Regions from separate parts of the Homo sapiens genome. Here regions 1, 2, 4 and 5 are each linked to region 3. The links come from fine-mapping of genetic effects on gene expression. A gene starts in region 3. Each other region holds a variant in brackets. All regions are shown on one strand. Distances are between the middles of the regions.

Region 1 (4,835 bases), 34 kb after region 3:
TTGCACTCCAGCCTGGGCGACAAGAGTGAAACTCTGTCTCAACAAACAAACAAATTAATAATAAAAGTATGCAAAACATAAATGTATTATAGCTCAATGGATGGTTATAAAATGAACCTCCTGCAACAAATGCCTAAGTCAAGCCAAAGCATCCCAGAGGCCCCCACAGTGCTGCTTCCTGATGACGCCCTCCTCCCGTGCCCATGAAGGAATCCTGCTCCCTTGATATTTAGAGTTATCACTCAATCGCTTGTTAAAACTAGTTTACCCCTAAAAATGAACCCTAAAAGCAGTCATTTTGGATTTTGTAAACAGCTTTATTGGATATAATTCGCATACCATTAATTCACCCATGTAAAATGTACAATTCAATGGGTTTTGGTATATTACATTATTAATTTTTAAAAAGTATGGTAAAATAAATGTAAGGGCGGTGGCTCATGCCTGTAATCCCAACACTTTGGGAGACCGAGGTGGGCAGATCACCTGAGGTGGGGCGTTTGAGACCAGCCTGACCAACATGGAGAAACCCCATCTCTACTAAAAATACAAAATTAGGGCCAGGCACGGTGGCTCACGCCTGTAATCCCAGCACTTTGGGAGGCTGAGGTGGATGGATCATAAGGTCAGGAGTTCGAGACCAGCCTGGCCAAGATGGTGAAACCCCGTCTCTACTGAAAATACAAAAAAATTAGCCGGGCATGGTGGTGGGCGCCTGTAATCCCAGCTACTCGGGAGGCTGAGGCAGGAGAATCAGGAGAATCGCTTGAACCTGGGAGGCAGAAGTTGGAGTGAGCCGAGATTGTGCCTGGGCAACAAGAGCGAAACTCTGTCTCAAAAAATAATAATAAAATAGGCTGGCGCAGTGGCTCATGCCTGTAATCCCAGCACTTTGGGAGGCCGAGGCAGACGGATCACCTGAGGTCGGGAGTTCGAGACCAGCCTGACCATGGAGAAACCTCATCTCTACTAAAAATACAAAATTAGCCGGGTGTGGTGGTGCATGCCTGTATTCCCAGCTATTCAGGAGGCTGAGGCAGGAGAATCACTTGAATCCGGGAGGTGGAGGTTGTCATGAGCCAAGATCACACCATTGCATTCCAGCCTGGGCAACAAAAAGTGAAACTCCGTCTCAAAAATAAATAAATAAACAAATGTATGACAAAATTTGCCATTTTAACCATTTTTAAGTGTACAACTCAGTGGCATTAATTATATTCACAATATTGTACAACCGTCACCACTATCTATTCCAAAACTTTTCCATCACCCCAAACAGAAGCTCTGTAACCATTAAGCAATAACTGGCATCCCCCCTCCCTTTAGCCCCTGATAACTCCTAATATACTGTCTTTATGAATTTGCCTATTCTGGGTACCTCATATAATGTGCCTATAATATTTGTCCTTTTGCATCTGGCTTATTTCACTTAGCATAATGTTTTCAAGGCTCATCCATGTTACAGCATGTATCAGAACTTCATTCCCTTTTATGGCTGAATCATATTCCATTGTATGTGTATACATACAATGTGTGTATATGCCACATTTTGCTTATCCATTCATCTGTTGATGGACATTTGGGTCGTTTTCATCTTTCAACTATTGTGAATAATGCACAATTATTTCATTTTGCCAATTTTTGAACTTCATAAGAATGGAATCAGAATAATTACAACATATTTTTTGTGCATGTCTGACTTTTTAAATATGCATTCATGTTATTTTATATACCTGTAGTTCATTCATTTTCTTTTCTTTTCTTTTCTTTTTTTTTTTTTTTTTTTTTTTTTTTGAGACAGGGTTTTGCTCTTGTTGCCCAGGCTAGAGTGCAGTGGTGCAATCTTGGCTCAGCGCGATCTCAGCTCACTGCAACCTCCGCCTCCTGGGATTCTCCTGCTTCAGCCTCCCATGTAGTTGGGATTACAGGCGCCTGCCAATACGCCTGGCTAATTCTGTATTTTTAGCAGAGACAGGGTTTCTCCGTGTTGGTCAAGCTGGTCTCGAACTCCCGACCTCAGGTGATCTGCCTGTCTCAGCCTCTCAAAGTGCTGGGATTACAGGCGTGAGCCACCACGCCCGGCCTCATTTTCATATGGAATTCTATTTCAGAAATATGCCAATTTATCCATTCTACTGTTGATAGATACATGAATTGTTTCCAGTTTTAAGCTATTTCAAATATGCTATTATAAAAATGGTAGATATTGCATGAATTTCTGTCAGGTATACAGCTAGGAGTTAAATGGCTGGGTCAGAGTTTATTTGGCTTAACTAGAGAATGCCAAAGTGGTTGTACTAATTTTTCTTCCCACAGGCAGTGTATGAGAGTTCCACTTGTTCTACACCCTCTCCAATTCTTGAGGTTGTCAATGTGGTTAGCCATTCTGGTGAGTTTGTGGTGCAATGGTACCTCAGTATGGGTTTAACTTG[C/G]ATTTCTGTGTTTATAAATGAGGTTAAACACCTTGTGATATGTCAATTGATCATTTGGATATCTTCTGTGAGATGCCTGCTCAAGTCCCTTGCCTATCTTCTGAAAGTGTTATTGTTTTATTTGCTCATTTAAGATTGGTAACCACCTGGAGTTGATTTTGACATTTACTGGGAGGTAGAGGGTCATGATTCATATTATTCCGTTTGGAGATTCAGTTATTCCAGCACCATGTGTTGAAAAGACTGTTATGACCCCTCTGCAGGCCATGTTTGTCATAAATCAAGTGTCCATATTTGCATGGGTCTATTTATGGACCTTCCATTCTACTATCTGTTCCTCCTTGCACAATACTGCACAGTTGGTAGCTTTATATTAAAGTTTGATATTTATAGGCCAAGCACTCCCTCCCAATTTGTTCTTCAGGAAAGTCTTGGCTATTGTTTAATGACTGGACACAAATTGTAGGAACAGTATATACAGATTCTTTAAGTAAGTCTTAAAAATGGAAAAGCCACCCAGGTGTGGTGGCCCACTCCCGTAATCCCAGCACTTTGGGAGTCCAAGGTGGGCAGATCACCTGAGGGCAGGAGTTCGAGATCAGCCTGGCCAACATGGTGAAACCCCGTCTCTACTAAAAATACAAAAAAATTAGCTGGGTGTGGTGGCCTGTGCCTGTAATCCCAGCTACTCTGGAGGTGGAAGCAGGAGAATCGCGTGCACCCAGGAGATGGAGGTTGCAGTGAGCCGAGATTACGCCACTGCACTCCAGCCTAGGTGACAGAGTGAGACTGTCTCAAAAAAAAAAAAAAAAGAAAGAAAGAAAAGCCATGTTGTAATCCTTTTCTGAACAGTCATTCCAGTGACTTTCCAGCTTAGAAGTTGGTAGTGGTTGGCCGGGAGTGGTGGCTCACGCCTGTAATCCCAGCACTTTGGGAGGCCAAGGCAGGAGGATCGCCCAAGGTCAGGAGTTCAAGACCAGCCTGGGCAACGTGGTGAAACCCTGTCTCTACTAAAAATACAAAAAGTAGCTGGGCATAGCGGTGCATGCCTGTAGTCCCAGCTACTCAGGAGGCTGAGGCAGGAGAATCGCTTGAACCCAGGAGGGGGTGGTTGCCATGAGCCAAGATGGCGCCACTGCACTCCAGCCTGGGCAGCAAAGTGAGACTCTGTCAAAAAAAAAAAAAAAACAAGAAGTTGGCAGCACTGTCCAACACAGTAGCCACCAGCCACTTGTGACTACTGAGCACTTGAAATGTGATTGGTCTGAATTGCAGTGTACTGTAAGTGTAAAATACACAATGGATTTCTACAATAAAGGATGCAAGATATCAATATTTTTCCTGTTGTTTACATGAAAACTTGGAGGTATACTGGATTAATGAACTCTCTCTCTCTCTCTCTCTATATATATATATACGTATATATACATATATATATACGTATATATATATATACATATATATACATATATATATACATATATATGTGTGTGTGTGTGTGTATATATATATATATATATATATATATATATATATTTTTTTTTTTTTTTTTTGAGACAGAGTCTTGCTCTGTCACCCAGGCTGGATGGAGTGCAGTGGCATGATTTTGGCTCACTGCAACCTCTGCCTCCCAGGTTCAAGCGATTCTCCTGCCTCAGCCTCCTGAGTAGCTGGGACTACAGGCATGCACCACCATGCCCGGCTAACTTAATTTTTATATTGTTAGTAGAGATGGGGTTTTGCATTGTTGACCAGGCTGGTCTCAAACTCCTGACCTCAAGTGATCCGCCCACCGCAGCCTCCCAAAGTGCTGGGATTACAGGTGTGAGCCACTGCGCCTGGCATATATTATTAAAATTAATTTCATCTGTCTCATTTTACTTTTTTAATGTTACTAAAATTTTTTTAAATTACATATGTGGCGACCAGGCGCGGTGGCTCATGCCTGTAATCCTAGCACTTTGGGAGGCCAAAGGCAGGAAGATCACCTGAGGTCAGGAGTTCGAGACCAGCCTGACCAACATGGTGAAACCCTGTCTCTACTAAAAATACAAAAATTAGCCATGCATGGTGTGCATGCCTGTAGTCCCAGCTACTCGGGAGGCTGAGGCAGGAGAATGGCGTGAACCCGGGAGGCAGAGGTTGTAGTGAGCCAAGATCATGCCACTGCACTCCAGCCTGGGTAACAGAGCGAGACTCCGTCAAAAAAAAAAAAAAAAAAATTACATGTGTGGCTTACATTGGTGACTGGAATTATATTTCTGCTGGACAGTGTAGTGGGCTGAATAATGGCCCCAAAGATTTCCAGGTCCTACTCCCTGGAAACCGTGAATTTTATTTTACAAGGCAGAAGGAACTTTGCAGATACAGCCAAGGGTATGGATCTTGAGATGGGAGCTTATC
Region 2 (4,835 bases), 210 kb before region 3:
TCTCAGCTCACTGCAACCTCTGCCTCTCGGCTTCCAGCTATTCTCTTGCCTCAGCCTCCTAGGTAGCTGGGACTACAGGCGTGTGCTACCATGCCCGGCTAATTTTGTATCTTTAGTAGAGACAAGGTGTCACCATGTTGGCCACGCTGGTCTTGAACTCCTGATCTCGTGATCTGCCCACCTCAGCCTCCCAAAGTGCTGGGATTACAGGCTTGAGCCATCGTGCCCGGCCAAATTTTTTTTTTTTTAATTAGCTGGGCATGGTGGCACATGGCTGTAGTCCCAGCTACTCAGGAGGCTGAGGCAGGAGGATCACTTGAGCTCAGGAGCTGGAGGTGGCAGTGAGCTATGATTGAACCAACTGTACTCCAGCCTGTTAACACAGTGAGACCCTGACTCTAAAAAAAGAAGAACTTGAAAATTTTTCAAATTTGTAAATTATTTTAGATACCTACATTGAAAATATAAATGCATACACATTCACAGTCATTTTTAACATTAGTTAAATAAAATTGGATTATACCAATAAATGTTACAACTTAAGTTAAACTATTCTGAGTAATTTCTTCCCTTTTCATTTCCAGATCTAGAGTTACATTTTTCTTTAATTATTACTGATTTTCTTTCTCCTCTGCAGATGACTTTAGTGCAGATTTCACCATTGATTACTCCATATTTGAGTCAGAGGACAGGCTGGTGAGTGAACTCTACATCTAAAAGGGTTAGGATAAGTAACAATTAAAAAGAAACTGGCCGGGCGCAGTGGCTCATGCCTATAATCCCAGCACTTTGGGAGGCCAAGGCGAGTGGATCATTTGAGGTCAAGAGTTTGAGACCAGCCTGGCCAAAATGGTGAAACCCCGTCTCTACTAAAAATACAAAAACATTAGTTGGACATGGTAGCATATGCCTATAATCCCAGCTACTCAGAAGGCTGAGGTAGGAGAATCACTTGAATCCGGGAGATGGAGGACGCAGTGAGCCAAGATCGTTCCACTGCACTCCAGCCTGGGTGACAGATCCAGACTTCATCTACAAAAAAAAAAGAAAAAAGAAAAGAAAAGAAACTGGGCAATGTTGAAATGTATCTGATTAACAAGAATAAAAATGAGTTTGATGAGGAGAAACTAAGTAGTAGGCCCAAAACAGATTTGTTAACCTATCTGGGGAGGAGAAAAAAGCCAGAACTTTATAAATTGTCCTCAGTAAGTTTGCTAAGACACTGAGGAGGGGCATCAAGGGACTTTTGAATGAGATGGGTACAAATCTATGCAAGCATAGGGTAGGGGGGAATCCCTGAGCTTAAGTCTTTGGGCTGGGTGGAGGTGGTGAAGGGGAGAACTTTAAGTAGAGAATCTATGAAGATGTTGGATGGAAAAACTGATAACTCTGTGTTTCCCAAATCCTACTGAGGGTAGAACAGGTTGGATAAGGACATAACAGAAGCAATAGAGACTACCATTAGTCTTGAAACAGCACGTGCAGACCATCCGAAGCCTGTAACTGTGAAACCAGTAACAACGGAACCTGTGAGTTGATTGGGGATTGGGGGCTGGGGGGAGACAGGACATCCCTAGTGACGTGGAATACATAGAGGGCTGGAATACCAGGCTTTGGTGGATGGGAGAACCAAATAATTAGTACTTCATTGCAGGTATTCATCTCAACTTGGCCATGTTTCACTAAGATTTAATACTAACCCTGTTTACAGAACACTGGGAAGATATGGTACAGTTAAATTTCAGTTCAGTAGTATTCAATAGGTATGTAATCTATGCCTAAGGCTGCTAAGGTAACTGATGCTGATAAAAAAGAAATCTATGTTACTGTCCTCAAGGATTTATAAAATTCAAGTTTACGAAACACTTAGAACAAAATGAAAAGGTATGTTATGATGTTAAATTATATATAAATTTGAAAGCAGAAGATACTGGCAGTGCTTTAGCCAATGTAAGAAGAGAGATTAGTACAGGCTAGAGTTGTCTGAAAAGCTTTCAAGAGGCATTTGTGCTTGAGATACACCCTGAAGAATAGATGAGCTTTTGATTGGTGGGTAGTTATGGAAGGACAGAAGCAATTAGGAGGAAGAATAGTTATTCCAAGAGTGAAAGAGGCCAGGTATGGCGGCTTATGCCTGTAATCCCAGCACTTTGGGGAGGCCAAGGTGGTCGGATCACTTGAGGTCAGCAGTTCAAGGCTAGTTCAATGGCCAACATGGTGGAAACCCCATCTCTACTAAAAATACAAAAGTTAGCCAGGCGTGGTGGTGCGTGCCTGTAATCCCAGCTACTTGGGAAGCTGAGGCATGAGAATCACTTGAACCCGGGAGGCAGAGGTTGCAGTGAGCCGAGATCACGCCACTCTACTCCAGCCTGGGCGACAGAGTGAGACTCTATACTAAAAAAAAAAAAAAAAAAAAAAAAAGAGTGAAAGAGCTGCACAGGAGGGGGGAATAGAACAAGCATAATATGTTTAGCAAATAGGGTATGATTGAAGGAGAGGGTATATGGAAGGGAACAGTGGGAATTAAGAAAAATATAAAATTTACAAGGCTCCTAATACTTGCTTAGTAATTTCACATGTGGCAACATAGGGGCAAATTTCAGAGAGTCTCAGGTGTCAGGCTGAAGTCTGGACTCATAATCAACAAGGAGCCTAGTAAGTTCTTCATTATGGTAAAAACACGATGAAAAGTGATATTTTAGAAAAACCGGCCAGGTGTGGTGGCTCACGACTGTAATCTCAGCACTTTGGGAGGCTGAAGTGAGCTGATCACCTGAAGTCGGGAGTTCGAGACCAGCCTGACCAACATGGAGAAACCCTGTCTATAGTAAAAATACAGAATTAGCTGGGTGTGGTGGCACATGCCTGTAATCCCAGCTACCTGGGAGGCTGAGGCAGGAGAATCGCTTGAACCTGGGAGGCGGAGGTTGCAGTGAGCCGAAATCGCGCTATTGCACTCCAGCCTGGGAAACAAGAGTGAAACTCCATCTCAAAAAAAGAAAAAGAAAAACCACTC[T/A]TCAGGTTGTATGCAGGATGTAAATAATTTAGTGGAAAGCAACTCATGAGATTTGCGTTGTTCCAGAAACAATCTGTACTCTGGCATTATGAATGGAGAGGAGAAAAATAAATATTATGAAGAAAATACCTTGCTTGAGTGATAATTTTATATGAAGTATAAATGAGGAGTGAGTTAAAATAACTCATGGGTTTTAAACATGGATGTCTGGGAAAATGGTTGACCAAAGTGGGAACTATGGGAGGCCAGAGTGGTTTAGGACAGAAGTTATTAATTTGGTAATGGCCAAGCTGAGTTTATGGTGACAGCCCTATGAGGGTGTCCTAAAGGTCACTGAACTAGATCAGGGCTAGAGTTCTAAGTGCAAAGTCACAGATATGAAAGTAAATGAGCTCAACAGAGCCAGTACACACAAGCTCAGAAGGCCAGTGACTGTGCCTGTAGTGAGTGGGAGGAAGAGAAATTAATGAATGGAATGGAGAAGGATTTGACTGGAGAAGTAGGCAGATAGCCAAGTTTGTATTATAGAGTCTAGAAGAGAAAGTTTAATATAATCCATCAAAAGCTACCAAGAGGCCAAGGAGGAGGAGGTCACTTGTAACTCTCAAGAAAGTAGTTTTAACTGAGTGCTTGGAGAAAAGCTAGATTTTTGTGGAGTTAAAGAGTGAGTACATTATGAGGAAAGGGAGGTGAGTACAGACCAACCATCTAAAAAATCTGGTAATGAAAAAGAGAAGCAACGGCTGGAAAGGGGAATAGGACCAAAGAGCAGCCTGCATATAGTTGAGCACAGATGAAAGAAGCCAGTAAGAATGGAAGTGAAAGATTGACAATAAGGGCAGTTAATTCTTTTTGAAGTATACAGTAGGCTGGGCGCAGTGGCTCACGCCTGTAATCCCAGCACTTTGGGAGCTGAGGTGGGCGGATCACCTGAGGTCAGGAGTTTGAGACCAGCCTGGCCAACATGGCAAAACTGTGTCTCTACTAAAAATACAAAAATTAGCCAGGCATGGTGGCGGGTGCCTGTAATCTCAGCTACTTGGGAGGCAGGCAGGAGAACTGTTTGAACCCTGGAGGTAGAGGTTACAGCGAGCTGAGATTGCACCACTGCATTCCAGCCTGGTGGATATAAAAATAATAATAAATAAACAAACAAATAAATAAAATATAGAGTAGACTCTCTTTAGATTGTAAATTCCTTGAGGACAGGAATCTTGTCTTATTCATATTTATGTCCCTTTCTATAGCACCTAGCACAGTGACTAGTATAGTATAATGCACATAATAGATAAAAAATAGAAACAATTGAATTGAATTGGCCTCCCTGGTATGGTCAGGGATAGCTGAAAGGCACAGAAGGACTCCTTACAGTGATGGGGAAGGATGGATCTTTCTCTAAGCCCAAAGGAAAGGAAGACAGAGGTTGTTGTAAAGAGGTGGCAGTCTTTCTGGAGGGGGACAGAGAAGTGGTAGGAGGAATGACACCAGCCTACTGTGTGGGGATGTCGGTATTTTAGCAGAGTCCAGATCTGAACGATGCCGTGTCCAGTTTGCGAAGTCCTATTCCCCTCCTCCTGTCGTGTGCCTTTGTTCAGGTGGGGATGTATTTCATGTAGAAGGTAAGAGTGCAGCCACTGGCTTTGGGGGAGTCTGTGAAATAATATTTTTTAACTTCCCACACTAAACCGAAGTAATTCTTACCAGTATCTCTAGTTAGTGTTTCCAGCCTGGTCAATTATCAGCCACTGAAGGAAGAGATTTAGGCTCATCCCTATAATCCCAGCACTTTGGGATGGTGACGTGGGAGGATCGCTTG
Region 3 (4,835 bases):
GGGACTAATGAGAATTACTGACAGCCTGATGGCTACCCCCAAGTCAGTTTCCCTTCATACTTTACTACAAATCTGACCATGTTCCCATATTTACTGAGTAAATTTGATGAAATTTACCTAGTCCTGTGTCCTAGATGTATCAGGGAGAGGGAAGAGAAAGGATAAAGGAAGTTGAGAGCTGGGATAGGAATTAGAGGCAAAGGGCTTATGTAGGGAGCAGAGAGCTAAAATTCTAGTCAGGCACCTCTTTCTGAGGTGATGGGGGAGTATACTGGGAGCAAACTCTTCTAGAGAAAGCATGGTGTGGTAAAAGAAAACCAAGCTTGGATTCAGAAATCACCATCAGCACTTGCTGTTTGACCTTAAATTCCTCATCTGTCAGATTAAAAGGTCTCGGCCGGGCATGGTGGCTCACGCCTGTAATCCCAGCACTTTGGGAGGCTGAGGCAGGCGGATCACCTGATGCTGGGAGTTCGGGACCAGCCTGACCAACATGGAGAAACCCTGTCTCTACTAAAAATACAAAATTAGCTGGGCCTGGGGTGGCACATGCCTGTAATCCCAGCTACTCGGGAGGCTGAGGCAGGAGAAGCGCTTGAACCTGGGGAGGCGGAGGTTGCGGTAAGCCGAGATCACGCCACTGCACTCCAGCCTGGGCAACAAGAGTGAAACTCCATCTCAAAAAAAAAAAAAAAAGATTAAAAGGTCTATAAAGTCCCTATTAAGCACCATGAGTATAAAGGGACTCAAACTGACCTCTGCAGATTCTTGATTCCAGCTTTTTTGTTTTTGTTTTGTTTTGAGATGAAGTCTCGCTCTTGTCCCCCAGGCTGGAGTGCATGGCGTGATCTCGGCTCACTGCAACCTCCACCTCCCGGGTTCAAGCGATTCTCCTGTCTCAGCCTCCCAAGTAGCTGGGATTACAGGCGCCCACCACCATGCCCAGCTAATTTTTGTATTTTTAGTAGAGACGGGGTTTCACCATGTTGGCCAGGCTGGTCTAGAACTCCTGACCTCAGGTGATCCACCCGCCTCGGCCTCCCAAGTAGCTGGGATTACAGGCGCCCACCACCACGCCCAGCTAATTTTTGTATTTTTAGTAGAGACGGGGTTTCACCATGTTGGCCAGGCTGGTCTAGAACTCCTGACCTCAGGTGATCCACCTGCCTCGGCCTCCCAAAGTGCTGGGATTACAGCGTGAGCCACTGCGCGCGGCCATCTTTGCTCCAGCTTTAAAGTGGTTACTCCAGAGGCTGAGGTGGTCAGTTGAGCCCAGGAGGTCGAGACTGCAGTGAGCCATGATTGTACCCCTGCACTCCAGCCTGGGCAACGGTGAGACCTTGTCTCAAAATTAAAAAATAAAACTGTTACAGTCATTTATCATAATAGCTTCTTGTTGCTTTTGCCCATTACCAAAAAACCATGGGCCACACTAGACGATTTACATAAAATTTAACTCAACAATTGGGAGCAACACTATTCTCATTTTATAGTTGAGAAAATTGAGGCTTAGAGAAATTAAATAGGTCAGGCAAGGCGGCTCATGCCTGTAATTCCAGAACTCTGGGAGGCCGGAGCGCGGTGGCGGTTTGGTGGGGGGGAGGGGAGGGATTGCTTGAGGCCAGGAGTTCGAGACTACCCTGGCCAACATAGTGAGACCCGCCCCCCCCTCCCGCCCCCCCCGGTCTCTATTAAATAAATATGAGAAGTTTAATAATTTTCCCAAAATTACATAGTTAATGGCAGATCCAGAATTTACACTAGGTCTGTCTGGTTCCCCAGTCTATGCTCTTAAGTTTTGCTACTTGCTGTAAGGACCACGTAAAATAAAATGTATAGTTAAAGGGAAATTACTACCATTTCCTGTCTGGTTTTCTCCCACTCTCGCCCTCAAAAGTTCACCTGCCCTTGTCCTCAAAGCCACAGGACGCCTAATTGCTATTTTTGGGTTTCAGCTGAAACGCCACGGGTCTGGGGGAATAGCGAGGGTGTGTTACATTTTCGGTCTTCCGGTCAGCCGGAACCACTCACACCGCTGCTGGTGCTGTGTAGGGTGTACCTCTTCGGAGTTCCTGGAGGTGGTGCCAGACTAGAGTGGCAGCTGTAGTAACCAATAGACACGGACTTTGTTGGACCAGAAGCCAATGAAGAATTACGTGGAGGAGAAGCGGCGATAATCTGTTTGAGGATGTAGGCACTGGTGTGAAGGAACATGGCCCTGTATCAGAGGTGGCGGTGTCTCCGGCTCCAAGGTTTACAGGCTTGCAGGCTACACACGGTGCGTGAGGCACCCCCAAAGCTCCGATCCGCATCAGACTTAGCCCAGCCGAAGCCCCCAAATTTTTATGTTAACCCAGCCTCACGCCACTCCTCCTCTCCCTGGTCCTCCGAGTCCCCAGAAAAGGACTCGTATCTAAACTCGTTATCTAATTCTCGAGTTAGCGGTCTGGGGGACTCTGAGCTCGAAGGACCCCCAGCCTAGGGTCTTGTATCACCCAATCCCCTTAAAAAGTAGGAATTCGGACGAAGTCCACTTAACCATCCCAAAGTGCCATCATCTGCAATTCTAAGAAAGAATGATGGGACGTGTGTTACCTGCTAATATATCTTTCCCTCCAGGCAGTTGTGTCGACCCCTCCACGCTGGTTGGCAGAGCGGCTTGGCCTTTTTGAGGAGCTGTGGGCTGCTCAGGTAAAGAGATTAGCAAGCATGGCACAGAAGGAACCCCGGACTATTAAGATATCACTTCCTGGAGGCCAGAAAATTGATGCTGTGGCATGGAACACAACCCCCTACCAACTAGCCCGGCAGATCAGGTAACAGGCCCATCCTGTAACTACCAGGATTATCCTTCTGCCCCTTTACTTTCTCTTCACTTGAGCAGGGGAAGAAAACTTGGTCTGCTTGTTTCTGTTCCGTCCCCATTAAGATAGCCTTTCCTGAAGATTTTGTTTTTGTTTTTTGTTGTTGTTCTTTTATACAGACGGGGTCTCTCCATGTTGCCCAGGCTAGTCTTGAACTCCTGGGCTCAAGCGATCCTTCCATCTCAGCCTCCCGAAGTGCTGGGATTACAGGCATGAGCCACCAAACCCGGCCTGAGATTTGTTTTATCTGTATTAGTTTCTGCATCAGAGTCTCTGTCCTTTCATTGGGGAAAGAAATGAAAGCTTCTGTTGCTCTGGTAACTCATTTCACCTTTGCAAGTTTACAGTTGCTGAGAGATGAGCAACTTTCTCCCCACTGTGGATTGTAACCCTGTCTGTTTTAAATCATTAATTTACTTTTTAATAATTGATACATAATAATTGAACATATGAATGGGTATATGTGATATTTTGATATATGCATACAATATGTAATGATCAAATCAGGGTGTTCAGGATATCTGTTACCCCAAACATTTATCATTTCTTTGTGTTGGGACTATTTCAAATCTTCTAGCTATTTTGAAATATACAATAAATTATTATTAACTGTATTCACCCAACTCTGCTATGGAACATTAGAGCATATTCCTTCTGTCTAACTCTATTTTTGTACCCATTAGCCAACCTCTTCATCTCCCCTCCCCCATCCTTTCCAGCCTCTGGTAACTATCACTCTATTCTCTACCACTGTGAGATCAACTTTTTAAACTCTCATATAGGAATCAGAACATGTGATATTTTCCTTTTTGTGCCTTGTAACCCTGTCTTTTTCTTCATCCCCACCTTCCACTGCTGAAGTTCAACACTGGCAGATACTGCAGTGGCTGCTCAAGTGAATGGAGAACCTTATGATCTGGAGCGGCCCTTGGAGACAGATTCTGACCTCAGATTTCTGACATTCGATTCCCCAGAGGGGAAAGCAGTAAGTTTCTTTCTTATCAGGAATACAGTGACTACTAAACCAAGAGATATTGAAGCAGGAAATTCTAACATTTTATTCTTTTGCCGCAGTTTCTCCATTTGCAGTTGGGAGGGAGACCTACCACAGACTGTCTTGACTATTTCTGGTTAGGAAACTTATGGTGAAAGTTTTTAACTTAGCTTCGATCTATTAAGCAAACATTTGTGCTAGTGAGAGGGAGAGAGATGATATGTTGAAAAAACGAAAGGATAAATATGTAAATTCAGCCCCCTCAACTCTTGAGCACGTACATTATAAGTCATCTGTAGTGTATATTCAATTCTAACATGGCTTATACAGCTGAGCAAACAACCTGGTCACCTCCCCACCTTGTCTTCTTCATGTCAGCTCAGGTAGCACAGACCTTGCCTATTAGGATCCAGAAAAATAGAGTTCTCCTGCCATCTATGTGTAAATAGTGACCAAATCCAAGAGGAATATATCGCACTAGATTCGTGGGACAGAAAAAAATAGGACTAAAAGACCAAACAGAGACCTAAGTAACCACTGTGTTAAGAAGATAGCTTATTCTGGCCAGGCACAGTAGCTCACGCCTGTAATCCCAGCACTTTGGGAGGCCGAGGCAGGTGGATCATCTGAGGTCAAGAGTTCAAGACCAGCCTGGCCAACATAGTAGAAACCCCGTCTCTACTAAAAATACAAAAATTAGCTGGGCGTGGTGGTGAGCACTTGTCATCCCAGCTAATTGAGAGGCTGAGGCAGGAGAATTGCTTGAACCCTGGAGGCGGAGGTTGCAGTGAGCTGAGATCGCGTCATTGCACTCTAGCCTGGGCGACAGAGCGAGACTCCGTCTCAAAAAGAAAAATTATTCTGAAGCCCTAAAAGCTTACAGGAGCAGCAGAAGACTGACTGGCCTCCAGCTTCTATGCTTTGGAACTGGGAAGAACCAAGGATTGAGGGGTGGGGCTGGAGCTTCTATGCACTGA
Region 4 (4,835 bases), 80 kb before region 3:
CATGAAAATTTATTGAATCTACCAATATTTCACGGATTTTGTCAAGTATTGCTGAGGGTTGTTTGCAGGATAGAGAAAAATTGATGCTTGGAGTTTTTCCTTTGGAGGATTTGGTATGGTTTGTTACAGATTTTTGTGATTCGCAGATCCTGGGTGAAAATGTATACTATTTGATTTAGTAGATTTCTAGATAATCATATGTAACAATGTTTAACAGAAATGAGTAGTAAATTAAGTAACTGGTGGATTGATACCTTATGAATGTTAACATACTACTCAGATTTTTAATTTAGATATGGCTCTTTCAGTGTATATTGAAGTTATTTTACTCAGGACTTGGCTTCTAAAGTCAGTACATAAAATGAAATTAGGCTTGAAAATACTGGAAATTTTTAGTAATGACAAAATTTTTTATTTTTTTTTGGTAAATAGCCTAGTACAGAAATATATATATGCATGATTTGTGCTATATTTGGTAGCATATAATTCCGTAGGCTGAATCATATTAAGAGAGTAAATCAGCTGAATGTTTTGATGCTTGGAACATGAAGCCGATTTAGGGAGAGTCAAACTTCCTGGTTTCTCTCTCTCTCATCATCTTTATGAAGATAATATTTCTTCTGGTTCTTCATCAGTGAGTATTTCTCTATGGCCTCAAATGTCTTTCTGATAATTACAGTTTCACTTTCCTGGTTAACCATGCCTAAAATATTAAATGGAAAATTGTAGAAATAAACAGTTCATAAGTTTTAAATTGTGCACCATTCTGAGTAGTATAATGAAATCTCATGCCATCTTGCCTGGGACAGGAATCCTCTCTTTGTCCTTTGTATCCATGCTGTTGACGCTTCCCACCCATTAGTGCCCCTGTTATATTGACCGCCAGGGTATTGCAGTGTTTGTGTTCAAGTAATCCTTAGTTTACTTAATAACGGTCCCAAAGCGCAAGAATAGTGATGCTTTTAATTTGGATATGCCAAAGAAAAGCCGTTAAGTGCTTCCTTTAAGTGAAAAGGTTAAAGTTCTTAATAAGACAATGAATCATATGCTGAAGTTGCTAAGATCTGTGATAAGAATGAATCTCCTATCTGTGAAATGATGAAGAAGGAAAAAGAAATTCGTGCTAGTTTTGCTGTTGCACCTCATACTGCAAAAGTTATGGCCACGGTGCTTGATTAACTGCTTGGTTAAGATGAAAAGGGCATTAAATTTTTGGTGGAATATATGAACAGATATGTGTTTCCGTTGACAGCAGTCAGGTTCTGTACTGTCTGGTTTCAGGAATCCACTAGGGGTCTTAGAACATATACCCCCATGTTAAGGAGGGACTACTGTAATTGCCTTTACCCCTGAATATTTGTTTAGGGTTCTTGTTAATTGTTTTCTCTCTCACACTCTGGCTTAGTACTTACAGGTAAAAAAATTTTTTTGAGACAAGAGTCTCTCTCTGTTGCCCAGGCTAGAGTGCAGTGGCACAATCTCAGCTCACTGGAGCCTCTGTCTCCCAGGTTCAGGTGATTCTCCTGCCTCAGCCTCTTGAGTAGCTGAGATTACAGGCATTTGCCACCATGCCTGGCTAATTTTTACTATAGATGGGGTTTCACCATGTTAGTGAAGCTAGTCTTGAACTCCTGACCTCAAATGATCCTCCTGCCTAGGCCTCCAAAAGTGCTGGTATTACAGGAATGCGCCACCACGCCCTGCCAAGTACTTACAAGTAAATTCTTTTTTTCTTTTTGAGATGGAGTTTTGCTTTTGTTGCCCAGACTGGAGTGCAATGGCGTGATCTCGGCTCATTGCAACCTCCGTCTGCTGGGTTCAAGTGATTCTCCTGGCTCAACTTCCCGAGTAGCTGGGATTACAAGCATGTGCTACCACGCCCGGCTAATTTTGTATTTTTAGTAAGAGACAGGGTTTCTCCATGTTGATCAGGCTGGTCTCGAACTCCTGACCTCAGGTGATCCGCCCGCCTCGGCCTCTCAAAGTGTTGGGATTACAGGCGTGAGCCACCATGCCTAGCCAGTAAATTCTTGTAAGTTCGAATATGGTATGACCTCTAGTAATGTACATCTCTTGATGTCTCTAATTTCTGTATTAGTATATTCTTTGTACTTCATTCTGTAGAGCATATGGTATTCACATAATACTTTTGGTTATTGGGTATGGCACATACAGTGCTAGGGTTCTCATTGTTTCTCAGTCCCAACAAGAACATCTCATCAGAGGAGTTTAAGGTACATTTTAAGTTCATTCATTAGTATCTCCCCAGATAAACTTAATTGTAAGTCTGAATCCCTAAGCAAGAAATTAAGGTACTCCTTTAAAAAATACATTATTTAGTAAACAAAGCATCTCTGACTTCTATACATACAGCACCATTTGTTCAGTGTTTTCAGTTCTTAAAAAAGAAATAAAATTATAACATTTAGATCCAAAAGGGGCCTTAGAAACTTTTTTGAGTACATTCATTTTACATAGACTTAGGCTAGTTGCGTCTTAGCTCAGCCTAACGTATGTGACCACCTGACCTGATGTGATGCCCTTTCACTCTCAAAATGTAACAGTTTGAATGATAATGTACTCATCCTCACATAGTGGTGGAGGAGTATGGCACTCAGATTTTCTACGTAGTTCAGTGTTCTTTCTGCTACCTTGATACTTTTTCAGATAATTTTTTCTTGTTAACCCTCAACAAAGCAACTAAGTGATTTTAAGGAAGTTGGGAGATTTATCTTTTTAAAGAGAAGATGTAGATTCTTTGAAAAAAGATGTTGTTTTCTTCTATTTAAATATTCAAGTGACACTGCCATTATTTGTACTGAGTGTCCTTACAGTTAAATATTTATTTAATCATAGGATATTGAAGCCAGAGGGTATGTTATGGACGATCTAATCTAAACTAGTTATTTTATATGGGTTTTTTTGTGTGTGTGGAGACAGGACCTTGCCCTGTCATTCACCCTGGAGTATAGTAGCACAACTATGGCTCACTGCAGCCTTGACCCCCCGGGCTCAACCGATCCTTACATCTTGACCTCCCAAAATGTTGGGATTATGGGTGTGAGCCACCACACCTGGCCTATGCTTTTATTTTTTATATAAAGGTATTATAATTGTAACATAGAAAGTTTAGAAAATAACATTTATTTTAAAATATTCATATG[A/AT]TTTTTTTTTTTTTTTTTTTTTTTGGAGACAGAGTCTCACTCTGTCGTCCAGGCTGGAGTGCAATGGCGCAATCTTGGTTCACTGCAACCCCTGCCTCCCAGGTTCAAGCGATTCTCCTGCCTCAGCCTCCCGAGTATCTGGGATTGCAGGTACCCGCCACCACGGCCAGCTAATTTTTGTATTTTTAGTTTCACCATGTTGGTCATGCTGGGCTCAAACTCCTGACCTCAGGTGATCTATCCGCCTCGGCCTCCCAAAGTGCTGGGATTATAGGCATGAGCCACCGCGCCTGGCCCGCCTATACATTTAAATAGTGTATTTACATAATTTACATAATGGTATATGTACATTTTTCTTTCCTGTGTTTTCACGAACTCTCATGCAAGCATCTTCATGTTATTTACAGACATGTACTTATCATCCATATAATATGGATGTACCTTTACATATACATTTAAATAGTGTTTTACATAATGGTATATGTACATTTTTCTTTCCTGTGTTTTCACTAACTCTCATGCAAGCATCTTCATGTTATTTATAGACATGTACTTATTATCCACGTAATATGGATGCACCTTTACCTAACTATTCCCCTGTTACTATTCTTTAGGTTGCTTCTAGTTTTTCTACAACTATAAATAACATTTTTGTCCATGTGGCTTTTTCTTCTTTTTGTTTTTCCTTTCTACAGCCTGTTTTGCAAATGAAGACAGACCTAAGCTAATGAAAATGAATCTTTTTCAGGGGTTACATCTCAGATCTTTGGACTCTCGTGCTGATGCCCTTTCCATTATACCATAATGCTTGTTTTCTGTAAAGACTACATGGATTGAAAACACTGTATCAGCTGTCTTAGCCCATTGTTGGAACAAGGCAAGGTAGACATAAAATGTAAATAATTCAAGTTAAAAATTATCTAACCCGTCTCCTACCAAGTTAACAGTTTTATTTTGTAGGTACTTAGACTTAAATCAGTAACCTTCCAGTTTCCTATTGTTAATTCCTTTCCCCTTCTGCATAATAATTAAAGCTGAATGCTTAGCTTGTAGATTGTTGAGGAATTGATGTTGTGAGAACACTGACTATATCTAGATTAACTTCTGCAACAGCCCCTAGAATACCTCATTGTACCTAGCCCCTACCTAATGCTGTGCATTTACAGAGAAGTCTTAGGGGATTGTTAGCCAAACTGAATAGAGGACTACTCTATTTTTCCCCTTTTCTTGTCTTCCTTCTCTTTTTTTTTCCTAATTTATTTATTCAAGAAGTAGTTACTGAACGCCAACTAAGTGTTAAGCACTATTCTAGGTGCTGAGAATTCAGCAGTAAATAAAACTGACAAAAATCCTTTCCCTTATGAGCCTATATTCTCGTGGGGGAGATAGGCAAAAAATAAATTGTATAGTATATTGGAAAATTATGTGTTATTTGGGAGAATAAAGCAAAGAAGGGTGGTAAGAGTGTTGTTGGCTTGATGTTGCAATTCTTTTTTTTTTTTTTTTTTTGAGTCGGAGTCTTGCTCTTTCACCCAGGCTGAAGTGCAGTGGCGCAATCTTGGCTCACTGTAACCTCCGCCTCTGGGTTCAAGCGATTCAGCCTCAGCCTCCTCAGCAGCTGGGATTACAGACGCATGCCACCACACCCGGCTAATTTTTGTATTTTTAGTA
Region 5 (4,835 bases), 190 kb before region 3:
TCCCCAATGTGAAGTAACATTTGGAGAAACAAACGCTTGTTGAGTTGAATTATCAAAGAATTGTAAGGAAGGGGCTCCTGTAGTGCTAGCTGCTCCAGAGGCTGAGGCAAGAGGATTGCTTGAACCCAGGAGTTCAAGACTGTAGTGTGAGTGCACTCTTGTTGTGCCTGTGAATAACCACTCCACTCTAACCTAGGAAGCATAGTGAGACCATGTCTCTTAAAAAAAATGTAGGAAAGATATTGCATGGGCTGCATTAAGGCCTTTAATGTGGTAGCTTTATTTCACAAGTAAGGGAAGCCTTGGAAGATCAGATTATCTTTATTGGGTTATGCAGTTATTGAATGGTGGAGAGGAGCCTAAAGCACATCTTTTTAGTGCAATGTTCTTTAATAATTATTACTAGTCTTACTAGAAATGGAAAGACTTATGGTGGTTCATTTTCCAATTTAGAATCCTTGTCTTGTCATTTCAGCAGGTGTCGCTTTAAAAAAAAAACCAGAATCCTCATCTGATTGGGTTTAAATATTGGTAGGGTTCTTGAGGACTGAGAGGGCAAAGGAAAGGGAACCTAGTTCTTAGCAAAGCAGAGAGTTCTAGGTGTGGAAGGCTGGATGGCAGAAGACCACAGTGAGGAAAAAAATGCTGTCAGCCGGGCGCGGTGGCTCACGCCTGTAATCCCAGCACTTTGGGAGGCCAAGGCGGGCGGATCACGAGGTCAGGACATCGAGACCATCCTGGCTAACACGGTGAAACCCCGTCTCTACTAAAAATACAAAAGATTAGCCGGGCGTGGTGGCACACACCTGTAGTCCCAGCTACTGAGGAGGCTGAGACAGGAGAATCGCTTGAACCCGGGAGGAGGAGGTTGCAGTGAGCCGAGAGCGTGCCACTACACTCCAGCCTGGGCAACAGAGCGAGACTCTGTCTACAAAAAAAAAAAGAAAAAATGCTGTCAGAAGCTGTGTAAATGAGAAGCAGTTGCAGGCTCAGAATGGTTTCTATGTCTTTTAAAAGGATCTGGTCTTAGGGTCAGGCGTGGTGGCTCATGCCTGTAATCCCAGCACTTTGGGAGGTTCAGGCGGGTGGATCACCTGAGGTCAGGAGTTCAATACCAGCCTGGCCAACATAGCGAAACCCTGTCTCTACTAAAAATACAAAATTAGCCATATGTGGTGGCAGGCGCCTGTAATCTCAGCTACTTGGGAGGCTGAGGCAGGAGAATCACTTGAACCTGGGAAATAGAGGCTGCAGTGAGCCAGAATCGTGCCACTGCATTCCAGTCTGGGCCACAGAGTAAGACTCAAAAAAAAAAATCTGGTCTGGGGTCAGCCACATCACTTAATTCTATGTGCATAACAATTATATCCTTGGGCTGAAGCTGTTCCCTCTACATTGTCACCTATGCTGAGAGTAAAGATAAGTACCAGGTTGTAAGGTATCCTGTTTCATTTTTCTCTGTTTCTCCTCATTTCTAACTCTCCTATTTCATACCTTCTGGTGGCATGTCTGAGAAGTATATTATGTCTAATGACCTTTCTCTGGCCCTACTTTGCTATCTTGGAAGTACAAAATGAACTTTTTTTTTTTTGAGACAGAGTTTCACTCTTATTGCCCAAGCTGGAGTGCAATGGTGCCATCTCGGCTCACCGCAACCTCTGCCGCCCATGTTCAAGCGTTTCTCCTGCCTCAGCCTCCTGAGTAGCTGGGATTACAGGCATGCGCCACCAAGCCCAGCTAATTTTGTATTTTTACTAGAGATGGGGTTTCTCCAGGTTAGTCAGGCTGGTCTCTAACTCCCAACCTCACATGATCCACCCGCCTTGGCCTCCCAAAGTGCTGGGATTACAGGCTTGAGCCACTGCACCTGGCCTAAAATGAACGTCTTTATAGGTAACATCCAGACCCTGCAGTGAGTTAGCTAGGGAGATGAATGTTGAATTTGGGAAAAGGCATGTATTACGTGTAACTTCACTCTTTTTTTCTGACTTCTCCCTGTAAATCTTCTTCTGTATGATTTATTTTGGTAGATTTAGATAGGTCTTCTGGCCATGGTTGTTGAGATGTTTGTTATTGAAAGATCAAAGGATAGCTGTTGCTTAATGGTAAAACAAATTTCCAACAGGCTCAGTTTTAGTTCCCTTATTCCTAAAGTATAGATAACACAAAAGCAAGAATTTTGTTTTTAGAAAATTAGCTACTTTGACAAAAAACAACAAAATTTGTGGTACAGTATTATTTATTGAACCACTTTTTTTTTGAGACGGAGTCTCCCTCTGTCGCCCAGGCTGGAGCGCAGTGGCGCAATCTCTGCTCACTGTGACCTCCGCCTCCCGAGTTCAAGCGATTCTCCTGCCTCAGCCTCCCGAGTAGCTGGGACTACAGGCGCATGCCACTACCCCGGCTAATTTTTTGTATTTTTAGTAGAGACGGGGTTTCACCATGTTAGCCAGAATGGTCTC[G/A]ATCTCCTGACCTCGTGATCTGCCCACCTCAGCCTCCCAAAGTGCTGGGATTACAGGCGTGAGCCACCATGCCCAGCTGAACCACTTCTTACAGTTGTATCAAGAGAGTAGCGGCTGGGTGCAGTGCCTCAGTCTTGTATTCTCAGCAATTTGGGAGGCTAAGAATGGTGGATCACTTGAGGCCAGGAGTTCGAGACTAGCCTGGCCAACATGGCGAAACCCCGTCTTTACTAAAAATACAAAAATTAGCCATGCATGGTGGCACAGGTCTGTAATCCCAGCTACTCCGTAGGCTGAGGCAGAAGAGCCGCTTGAACCTGGGAGGCAGAGACTGCAGTGATGCCCCATATCATATATGGAATGCATCCCCATTTACACCTAAAATTTGAAACAGAATCTGAGAAACAAAATATTTCTAATCTCCTTCCTGATCCTCTTCACTGATACCAGGTTTGCAGAAAATATAAGGCCAGCTCTTATCTTTTGAGAGAAGACTCTTATTTCTTTGTCTAAGATTGTCTATACCCCTTTTTATCTGCCTCTTTTAAAAATCCTTGTCCAGCCACTATATTTTTAATTTAATCAACACTCAGTTTTTGCTTTTCCTGTTTTTTTTTCTGTTTTTTGTTTGTTTGTTTGTTTGTTTGTTTGAGACGATGTCTCGCTCTTGTCCCCCAAGCTGGAGTGCAGTGGCATGATCTCGGCTCACTGCAACCTCCGCCTCCCAGGTTCAAGTGATTCTCCTGCCTCAGCCCCCCGTGTAGCTGGGATTACAGGCACTTGCCACCACGCCTGGCTAGTTTTGGTATTTTTAGTAGAGACGGGGTTTCACCATGTTGGCCAGGCTGGTCTCGAACTCCTGACCTCAGGTGATCCACCCGCCTCTGTCTCCCAAAGTGCTGGGATTACAGGTGTGAGCCACCACACCCAGCCCACATACTACTTTTATGGTTCTCTTTTTGTTGGTGACTGGCATTTTACACAAACCTATTTCCTGGGTCGAAGTGTTAATATTAGAGAGCCGGAGAGTGGTCAGTGTGACACCCTGTGGTTTCAACCCTGGCTGCCTATTAGGATCACCTAGGGAACGAACCATCAAGAAAACAAAACTAATGCCAGGGCCCAATCTGAGATGAATCAGAATCTCCAGGGGTTGCAACCTGGATGGCAGCATTTTAAAAAACATACCATGAGATTTCACCAGGATTGAAAATTATTATAATAGACTTGTAGCCTCCTGGCTGGGCACAGTGACTCATGCCTGTAATCCCAGCACTTTGGGAGGCTGAGGGGGGCGGATCATTTGAGGTTAGGAGTTCAAGACCAGCCTGGCCAACATGGTAAAACCCCGTCTCTACTAAAAATATAAAAATTAGCCGGGTATGATGGTGCATACCTGTAATCCCAGCTATTCGGGAGGCTGAGGCAGGAGAATCGCTTGAACCTGGGAGCTGGAGGTTGCAGTGAGCCGAGATCGCGCCACTGCACTCCAGCCTGGGTGACAAAGTGAGACCCTGTCTCAAAAAAAAAAAGGCTTGTAGCCTCCTTAAGGACAGAAACCTATGCTTTTTCATTTGTGTATCTCTTGGATTTACCAAAGTGTCTGGCACATCCAAAGCTCTCATTAAATGTCTACTTAATGAACATAAATGTTCCTTTATCTTTTTTGTCACTTATTTAATGTTTGTCAAACTTTTTTACTGAAGTGTCGTTAACAGCAGAGGAGAGTGAATGAACTATAGGGGTTCTGCTACTATAAGCAAACATGGAATTTCTTTGAAGCTTCCCTAAATTAAAATGTAAGGTGAACTTCGTATTCGTTGCCATTGCATCTGTTTTATGGGTAACACCCCCACTCCTTCGAGTTAAAATTGGTGCCTCCAGGCAGATGCATCAAATTTGTCCAGAAACTTGTATCCTTTGGCATTCTGTTAATTACCCTGGTTAAGAAGCACAGTATTACCTTTTCTTCAGGGATTAAAACACCAAAGTAGGAGTAGGATTTGGAAAAAAGCAATTTACATTGCTTAAAAAGAAAAGAATTATATTCTTTTCTTTTTAAGAAAGAAGAGGAGTGGTTAGAAAAATAAATTTGGCCAGGCGCGGTGGCTCACCCCTGTAAGCTCAGCACTTTGGGAGGCCGAGGCGGGTGGATCATCTGAGGTCAGGAGTTCAAGACCAGCCTGGCCAACATGATGAAACCCTGTCTCTACTAAAAAAAATACAAAAATTGGCCGGGCGCGGTGGCTCATGCCTGTAATCCCAGCACTTTGGGAGGCTGAGGGGGGCGGATCACGAGGTCAGGAGATCGAGACCATCCTGGCTAACACAGTGAAACCCCGTCTCTACTAAAAATACAAAAAATTAGCTGGG

Which allele goes with the higher level. Positions count from the first base shown, and alleles are read on the strand shown. Sizes are in standard deviations (SD) of each study's normalised expression. Not every link is listed here.
As copies of G replace C in region 1, the expression in sun-exposed skin of the gene that starts at base 2,181 in region 3 goes down (small effect, 0.31 SD a copy in GTEx).
With allele A in place of AT in region 4, the expression in cultured neurons of the gene that starts at base 2,181 in region 3 is lower (large effect, 1.3 SD a copy in Aygun 2021).
For the expression in tibial nerve of the gene that starts at base 2,181 in region 3, G is the low allele of the variant in region 5 and A is the other (large effect, 1.0 SD a copy in GTEx).

The links. PIP is the estimated chance that this variant, and not a neighbour inherited with it, causes the effect. A credible set is the group of variants that fine-mapping cannot tell apart.
Region 1: its variant is the best candidate, but not a certain one, in a credible set for the expression of TARS2 in sun-exposed skin (GTEx, PIP 0.69).
Region 2: its variant is the best candidate, but not a certain one, in a credible set for the expression of TARS2 in monocytes (TOPMed, PIP 0.86).
Region 4: its variant is the best candidate, but not a certain one, in a credible set for the expression of TARS2 in cultured neurons (Aygun 2021, PIP 0.61).
Region 5: its variant is the best candidate, but not a certain one, in a credible set for the expression of TARS2 in tibial nerve (GTEx, PIP 0.57).

What each region holds. Positions count from the first base shown.
Region 1 is chr1:150,519,017-150,523,851 of GRCh38, forward strand. It overlaps FALEC (focally amplified lncRNA regulator of ECM1), which reads left to right. Exons shown (of 6, transcript NR_186305.1): 3 at 2,317-2,389. Among named protein-coding and RNA genes, the nearest start is that of FALEC, 5.7 kb to the left of the region's middle. The variant C/G (reference allele first, on the strand shown) is at 2,433.
Region 2 is chr1:150,275,104-150,279,938 of GRCh38, forward strand. C1orf54 (chromosome 1 open reading frame 54) reads left to right here. Exons shown (of 6, transcript NM_024579.4): 3 at 638-696; 4 at 1,419-1,529; 5 at 4,540-4,638. The coding sequence ends at 4,635. All of the region lies in intron 1 of LOC124904414, which reads right to left. Among named protein-coding and RNA genes, the nearest start is that of C1orf54, 4.7 kb to the left of the region's middle. The variant T/A (reference allele first, on the strand shown) is at 3,020.
Region 3 is chr1:150,485,239-150,490,073 of GRCh38, forward strand. It overlaps TARS2 (threonyl-tRNA synthetase 2, mitochondrial), which reads left to right and starts at 2,181. Exons shown (of 18, transcript NM_025150.5): 1 at 2,181-2,278; 2 at 2,620-2,816; 3 at 3,726-3,849. The coding sequence starts at 2,213. It overlaps LOC124904416 (a long non-coding RNA gene), which reads left to right. Exons shown (of 2, transcript XR_007066600.1): 2 at 1-116. RefSeq lists enhancers at 2,006-2,512, 2,006-2,275.
Region 4 is chr1:150,404,994-150,409,828 of GRCh38, forward strand. All of the region lies in intron 1 of RPRD2 (regulation of nuclear pre-mRNA domain containing 2), which reads left to right. Among named protein-coding and RNA genes, the nearest start is that of RPRD2, 43 kb to the left of the region's middle. The variant A/AT (reference allele first, on the strand shown) is at 3,165.
Region 5 is chr1:150,296,360-150,301,194 of GRCh38, forward strand. The region is part of intron 2 of MRPS21 (mitochondrial ribosomal protein S21); the gene reads left to right. Among named protein-coding and RNA genes, the nearest start is that of MRPS21, 4.9 kb to the left of the region's middle. RefSeq lists an enhancer at 683-1,240. The variant G/A (reference allele first, on the strand shown) is at 2,463.